Linked DNA regions of Homo sapiens. The protein of the gene in region 1 purifies or fractionates together with the protein of each later gene. This does not show direct contact. Each region holds a gene or a part of one and is shown on either strand. Other genes may lie near its edges.

Evidence for each region.
Region 2: the proteins of IMPA2 (region 1) and RDX fractionate together in Homo sapiens (co-fractionation; one large-scale study listed by BioGRID). This does not show direct contact.

Annotation. Positions count from the first base shown.
Region 1 is NC_000018.10:12,001,836-12,005,654, forward strand, and holds part of IMPA2 (inositol monophosphatase 2), read left to right. Parts: intron 1-3,819. UniProt on the Homo sapiens protein: Phosphatase that can use myo-inositol monophosphates, myo-inositol 1,4-diphosphate, scyllo-inositol-1,4-diphosphate, glucose-1-phosphate, beta-glycerophosphate and 2'-AMP as substrates in vitro.
Region 2 is NC_000011.10:110,262,083-110,265,901, reverse strand, and holds part of RDX (radixin), read left to right. Parts: intron 1-1,027; coding exon 1,028-1,123; intron 1,124-1,667; coding exon 1,668-1,942; intron 1,943-3,819. UniProt on the Homo sapiens protein: Probably plays a crucial role in the binding of the barbed end of actin filaments to the plasma membrane.

The DNA.
Region 1 (3,819 bases):
GTCCAGGAATCAGTGATTGAAATCTGGGGTTCCCAAGCTCTAGCCCACAAGTCAGTGGACTGTGGCTGCACCACGGACAGCCCCAGTCTGTGTGTCACCCCCATCTTCCCTAGCTCTGAGGGTGAATGTGTGGACACGGTGAAAGCAGCTGTTCTCTTCTCTGCTCAGTGTGCCTCAAAAATTGACATCAAATGCAGTTGTTTTTCAACATATTTATGTGAAGTGAGTTTTTTTTGCCAATGACTAAGATTAAAAAGAAAGTAAATTTTGGGGATTTAATTGTATTTTAGATCATAGAAAAGTTGATAAATTTGTGATGAGAGAAAATTGTATACATATTGTAAAATAGGACATTGTGATTTTTTTCTGCTTTCTAAGTATTTAAATATATCCCTTAAACAATATATTTAATTTGAAGTTGCCTCTCATCCTCCTTTAGGAAAGACTTTTATTCTGAGCTTTTCTCTTTCCTTGATTTTAGTCTTTCATGAAATGATATTAAAAATAGACTTAATAACATTTTTTTAAAAACCTGATACAGGCTCCCCAGTTTTATTATTTTATTTCACTCATCCATGAAATCCAAAGGTTTGCTCCTTGACCTGGAAGACAGGTGTAGACTGAATCAAAGAATGATAAGGTTTAAACTTCCTTCTGGTGGGGTGCAGTGGCTCATGTCTGTAATACTAGCACTTCAGGAGCCCAAGGTCAGAGGATTGCTTGAGCCCAGGAGTTTGAGACCAGCCTGGGCAACATGGTGAATCCCCATCTCTACAAAAAAATTAAAAAATCAGCTGGGCATGCTGGTGCACGCTTATGCTCCCAGCTACTTGGAAGGCTGAGGTGAGAGGCTCGCTTGAGTCCTGGAGGTCGAGTTGTGATGCTGCCACTGCAGTCTAGCCTGGGTGACAGAGCAAGACCTTGTCTCAAAAAAAAAAAAAAAAAATGTAGATTAAAAGGAACCCTTGCAGACTGTTGGTGAGAATGTAAATTGATGCAGCCGCTATGAAAAACCCCACTGCACTGCAGCCTGGGCAACAGAGTGAGACCCTGCCTCAAAACAAAAAAATAAATAGGCTGGGCGCGGTGGTTTACACCTGTAATCCCTGCACTTTGGGAGGCCGAGGCGGGTGGATCACCTGAGGTCAGGAGTTCGAGACCAGCCTGGCCAACATGGTGAAACCCCCATCTCTACTAAAAATACAAAAAATTAGCTGGGCATGGTAGTGCGTGCCTGTAATCCCAGCTACTCAGGAGGCTGAGGCAGGAGAATCGCTTGAACCTGGGAGGTGGAGGTTACAGTGAGCTGAGATCACGCCACTGCACTCCAGCCTGGGGAACAAGAGCAAAACTCTGTCTCAAAAAATAAAAAATAAATAAATAAAATTGCTTCTGTCACTGGCCCTAGCAGCTTTGGCAAATCTCACCACTTAGGGCCTCGAACTCCTCACCTGTGAATGAGGGACCTGACCATGGTCATCCCTGAAGTCCCAGCATTTAACTCGTAACATGACAAAAAGCAAACCAGGGCTGGGCACAGAGGCTCACACCTGTAATCCCAGCACTTTCAGAGGCCGAGGTGGGTGGATAGCTTGAGATCAGGAGTTCGAGACCAGCTTGGCCAATATGATGAAACCCCGTCTCTACTAAAAATAGGAAAACAAATTAGCTGGGCCATGGTGGCGCATGCCTGTAGTCCCAGCTACTTGGAAGGTTGAGACAGGAGAATCGCTTGAACCTGGGAAGTGGAGGTTGCAGTGAGCTGAGATTGCACCATTGCACTCCAGCCTGGGCATCTCAGTGAGACTCCATCTTAAAAAAAAAAAAAAGAAAAGGAAAAAAAAAAAAAAAGGCAGCATGGTAAGGCCGGGTTTTTATAGATTGGGTCTTTGGAGTGTGCTGTTGGCCTTGGCCACATAGCTGTCTCCTGCCATGCCCTGGCTTTGTGGGGCGCCTAAACCTGTTTTCAGATGATGATTTTGAGTGAGATACAAGTGTAGCTACTTGGAAAAGATTCAGTAGCATCCCTGAGCTATAGTGATAGAAACCCCGTCCTTGTCCCTTCTGTGGAGCAGCCTGTTGGAGCTTCTCTGGGTTGGCCTAGGCCCAGAGATGAGGTCAGCAGCTCAAGGGTCTAGTGTTTTTAGCTGTCTTCCCAGCCCTGCTCCAGAGCCCCCATGTAACCTGCTGCCCTGCAGTGCCCAGCACAGAGCAGTGTCTGTTGAATGCGTGAGTCAAGCAAAACATCAAACAGAATCCTTGACATGGGAAAAACATGCTCCCAGCCACCACCAGCTGAACATTGACATCCAGCTGCTTTCCCACTGGGCAGTGGCTTGTGAAGATGGGGACAGAGTATCATAAATCATCTCCTTTGTGGACAGCAGGGATGATCCTGACCTTCTTGTCACAGACTAAACAGACTAAGTAGCCAGAAGAAAAAAAAAGAAAGAAAGAAAAAAGGGGCTTAAAGGCACTCAGCTGTCAAAATTATAAGGAGGGTTTGTTAAAACTATTTTTTAAAAAAGAAAAGTGGTTAAGTTATGCAGTAGGATATAATATTCTATAATAACTTATTACCAAACTTTTAGCCTTAATCCAGTTGCTATTTTCCTCTTGTCTATTGGATAGACGTATGGAATGTTCTTTTTTTCCCTAAATTTAGTCATGTGCATTTTTTTTCCTATTTATATTGTGGGTTTTTTTTTTTTTTGAGATGGAGTCTTGCTCTGTAGCCCAGACTGGAGTGCAGTGGTGCAATCTCTGCTCACTGCAACCTCCGCCTCCCGGGTTCAAGCGATTCTCCTGCCTTCCAAGTATCTGGGATTACAGGCATGCACCACTATGTCTGGGTAATTTTCATATTTTTAGTAGAGACGGGGTTTCACCATGTTGGCCAGTCTGGTCTTGAACTCCTGACCTCAAGTGATCCACCCACCTCAGCCTCCCAAAGTGCTGGGATTACAGGCGTGAGCCACCGTGCCCTGCCTATATTGTGGATTCTATGTAGATGTTCCAGTGGCTTTTAGGAAGGTCTTTATGATTTCACACATCTGTCTACAGTCATGTCTGCAGAGCAGACTCTCCCCACTCCCTCTGCAGACAGCTGTAAAACATTGTCTTTCATCTCACAGGTATTAGCTTCCTACATGAGTAAAATCAGGTTTAAGTGAATAAAAATTGTGCATCTCTTCCCATGTACCAGGGAAGTATTTTTGGTGCCTCCAAAGACCGAGCACGGTTCACGCCTCTGCTGGCCTTCACACCGCTGCAGCCACACAGTGCAGAAGCCTGCTCCCTGCTGCCCACAAGCATGAGGCAGGTGGGAAGGGGGATGCTCGTGCCACCTTGTAGGCGGGCAGGCAGTCTCATGGGCAGAGGTGTACACAAGGTGGGTGATGAGGAAGACAGCTCTAGGGTATGAATGATCAGCTGCTGAAAAACATCCAGTGCTCAGTGTGGGTACTTAGAGTTATTCTCATAAAAAATGTGAGGCAGAGTTAGTCAGGTGTGGTGATGCATGCCTGTGGTCCCAGCTACTCAGGAGGCTGAGGCAGGAGGATTGCTTGAGCCCAGTGGTTTGTGGCTTCAGTGAGCCATGATTGTGCCACTGCACTCCAGCCTGGCTGACAAAGCGAGACCATGTCTCCAAGAAAAAAAAAAAAAATTTCTAAAAGTACTTGCTGGGTTACACTAAATGAAACCTAAAAAACAAATAGATAAATAATAAAGGTTACACACAGCAGAAGCTTTGTTAACAAATTAACTTATATTAATAGTTGCTGCTGGGAAAACAAGCTGCTTGGTGACTTCCCTAAA
Region 2 (3,819 bases), on another chromosome or scaffold:
AATTATGATAGAGTAAATTTTCTAATAGCAGGATAGATAAAGTCCTATGGGAATATCAGGGAACAAGTGATTAATTTTATCTAGATGGTAGGAGAGCTTTATTCACAGAAGGCACGTTAGTTGAGCTTGTCCTTAAAGAATAAATTGTTCAATAAGTCATAAAAATACAGAAGACCCATTCTAGGCAGAGGAAAAAACATCAGCAAAATTGTAGAAGGGTGGAATTTATGGTATGTTCTAAGAATGGTTTCTTGCTCAGTGAAGGTAGAACATGGAATATATCAGACTTTTCTTATCACCAAAATGATACCATTTGCCCTAAATATACCAATAGGGTACTTGTGGGGGTAAATAGAAATTGGAACGTATGATTATGAAAACTATATATATATATATATATATTTTCAAGACTCTTGTTATTGTTGAGGTCATGATAGATAAGGAAAAGGAGGTATGAAAAAGTGGATCAAGTAAGAGGATTGAAGTGACACTACAAAATTGAGGATTAGAGGCCAGGTGCAGTGGCTTACGCCTATAATCCCAAGACTTTGGAAGGCCGAGGCAGGCAGATCACCTGAGGTCAGGAGTTTGAGACCAACCTGGCCAACATGGTGAAACCCCATCTCTACTAAAAATACAAAAAATTAGCTAGGCGTGGTAGTGCATACCTGTAATCACAGCTACTTTGGAGGCTGAGGCAGGAGAATCACTTGAATGGAGACGGAAGTTGCGGTGAGCCAAGATTGTGCCATTGCACCCCAGCCTGGGTGACAAGAACAAAAAAAAAAAAAACAAAAAAAAAAACTTCTTTTCAAAAAAAAAAAAAGAAAAATTGAGTATAGAAAACTTGAATTTGAGTTTTCAAAAATGTTCCTTTAATATCTTAAATTTAGGGAAAGCCTTTTCTATGGCAAAGGAATATACGTATACTTACATAGTTTTGTTCTCCTTTTGAAGTGTAGTATCATCTAGACACAATGTGTATGTTGGACTGAAATTGTGTTTTTTTGTTGTTGTTGTGTTTTAGGTGGTGAAAACAGTTGGTTTGCGTGAGGTCTGGTTTTTTGGGCTGCAGTATGTAGACAGCAAAGGTTATTCTACATGGCTTAAACTAAATAAAAAGGTAAAATATGTACGATAACATTAAACTAATAATTATGTTAAGTTGAAGTTATGAATTTGTGCTGGAAAAGCTAAGTCTGACTGATTGCAAGCTTCCTTTTGTAGTTATCTGTTAATCATTATGAGGTACCATGTTTTTTTAAATTCAATCAGGCACCATCAGCTTATCATCTCAAAAAAAAAAAAAAGAAATGCTTACTTTTCCTATTTGAAAACTTAGCCTATAACAAATATTAAAGCAGATATTACAAATGGCATACTAAGTACTTCAATTTTGATGTAAATACCTGTAGGATAAGCTTCTCAAGAATATGAAAAAAAGTTTTCAATTTGGTTATTAGAATCTGAGTTATAGGTCACATTCAAGAGCATAGAATCTTTTACCACATATATTTGTTTACAGATTTAGACTATTACACACTAAAATCTTCATAGATTTAGAATCTATTTCACTTCATTTTCTTCCAAAAAGAATTTGATGTGACTAGGTCTAATTATTGTAAACTTAAGATTTTTGTTGATTATACTTGAAATTATTTTTCCAGGTAACACAGCAGGATGTTAAAAAAGAGAATCCTTTACAGTTCAAGTTTAGAGCTAAATTCTTTCCTGAAGATGTTTCTGAGGAATTAATTCAAGAAATAACCCAGAGACTCTTCTTCTTGCAAGTTAAAGAAGCCATCTTAAATGATGAGATATATTGCCCGCCAGAAACTGCAGTTCTTTTGGCTTCCTATGCTGTCCAAGCCAAGTATGGAGATTACAATAAAGAGATTCATAAGCCAGGCTACCTGGCTAATGATAGACTCCTACCCCAGCGGTAAGTGAAACATGCGTTTGCATTATATTGTCTGAAAATTGTATTCTAGAAGTCTATAAATAAAACGTTTTTCAGGTTTTTTTTTTTTTTTGGAGACAGGGTCTGGACCTGTCACCCATGCTGGAGTGCAGTGGCGTGATCTCAGCCCACTGCAACCTCTGCCTCCTGGGTTCAAGCCATCCTTCCACCTCAGCCTCCTGAGTAGCTGGGTCTATAGGCACATGCCATTATGTCCGCTAATTTTTTTTTTAATGTATTTTTCATTGAGATGGGGTTTCATCATGTTGCCCAGGCTGGTCTCAAACTCCTGAGCTCAAGTGATCTGCCCGCCTCAGCCTCCCAAAGTGCTGGGATTACAGGCATGAGCCACCGCACCTGGCCTCTTTTTTTTTTTTTTCCAGATTTTAAGTTGCCAGCTGGATCATGGGGTATACTTCTAAAAATCATTACCTAGCACCTCCATAGATTTATATGCTCTGTAATTACCTAAGGTTGATCTATCTCTTCTTTCCTCATTCCCATAGGGTAAGCAATAAATGGAGGCAGTGATAATTTGGACTTGAGGAAAGGATGTGACTGTTGCTGCTTGGTACAAATTCTAACACAGGCAGGTGCTTAATAAGTGAGAGTAAGTGGCAGGCTGTGTTTTCTTCATAGAATTCTCTGACTTTTTCCCCCCCCGAGATAGAGCCTCACTCTGTCACCCAGGCTGGAGTGCAGTGGTGCAATCTCAGCTCGCTGAGATTGGAGTCTGCCTCTCAGGTTCAAGTGATTCTCCTGCCTCAGCCTCCCGAGTAGCTGGGATTACAGGCATCTGCCGCCATGCCCAGCTAATTTTTGTATTTTTAGCAGAGACAGGGTATCACTATGTTGGCCAGGCTGGTCTCGAACTCCTGACCTCAAGTGATCCTCCCACCTCGGTCTCCCAAAGTGCTGGGATTACAGGCGTGAGCCACTGCTCCTGGCTGAATTTTCTGACTTTCTGAAAAGGCTTTTTAAACTAGGTTTTCAGACTCCTAGGCTGGTGCATTGTTCTTATCTACAGTGTACTGCTGCTTCTATAATGGCTATTTTAAAATAATATGGCATAGGAAAAAATTATCAGAAGACCTAAATTTTGAGTACCGATTCCACCCTTTGCTATATATGTGACCTTAGGTACATGACCTAAAACCTCTGAGCTCAGTATCTAAATCTGCAAAGTGGGGATAATAATCCTTCTCTGGCTACCTTCTAGTTTATGATTATAATTAATGAACTATATGATTTACAGTTTTAATTGTCAAGTGTGAAACGTGTTATTTAGTAGTATTGATGGAATCTAGAAGATGGAACATCAAATATTACTTTTTAATTTTTTTTTTTTTTCTTTGAGATGGAGTCTTGCTCTGTTGCCCAGGCTGGAGTGCAGTGGCACGATCTCGGCTCACTGCAACCTCCGCCTCCCGGATTCAAGCGATTCTCCTGCCTCAGTCTCCTCCTGAGCAGCTGGGATTACAGGCACACACAACCACACCTGGCTAATTTTTGCATTTTTAGTGGAGATGGAGTTTCACCGTGTTGGTCAGGCTGGTCTCGAACTCCTGATCTCAAATGATCCACCCGCTTCGGCCTCCCAAAGTGCTGGGATTATAGGCGTGAGTCACCATGCTCAGCCAAAATTCAATTATTAAATGTCACAGTGTTCCGCCCTTTAATTTTGTAGCAATAGTAGTCACCTTGGAAAAGGATAGAATTATGTAAGTTGTTCACCAAGAGAGTCAGGAATATGAGATATCTGATAGTCTGTTTATATTCTGGTTTTGAATGTTATTCTAACCTAAGATTCTTCATCTTAGATTACTGAATTGAGTAATCAGACTATTATGGTGGAATTT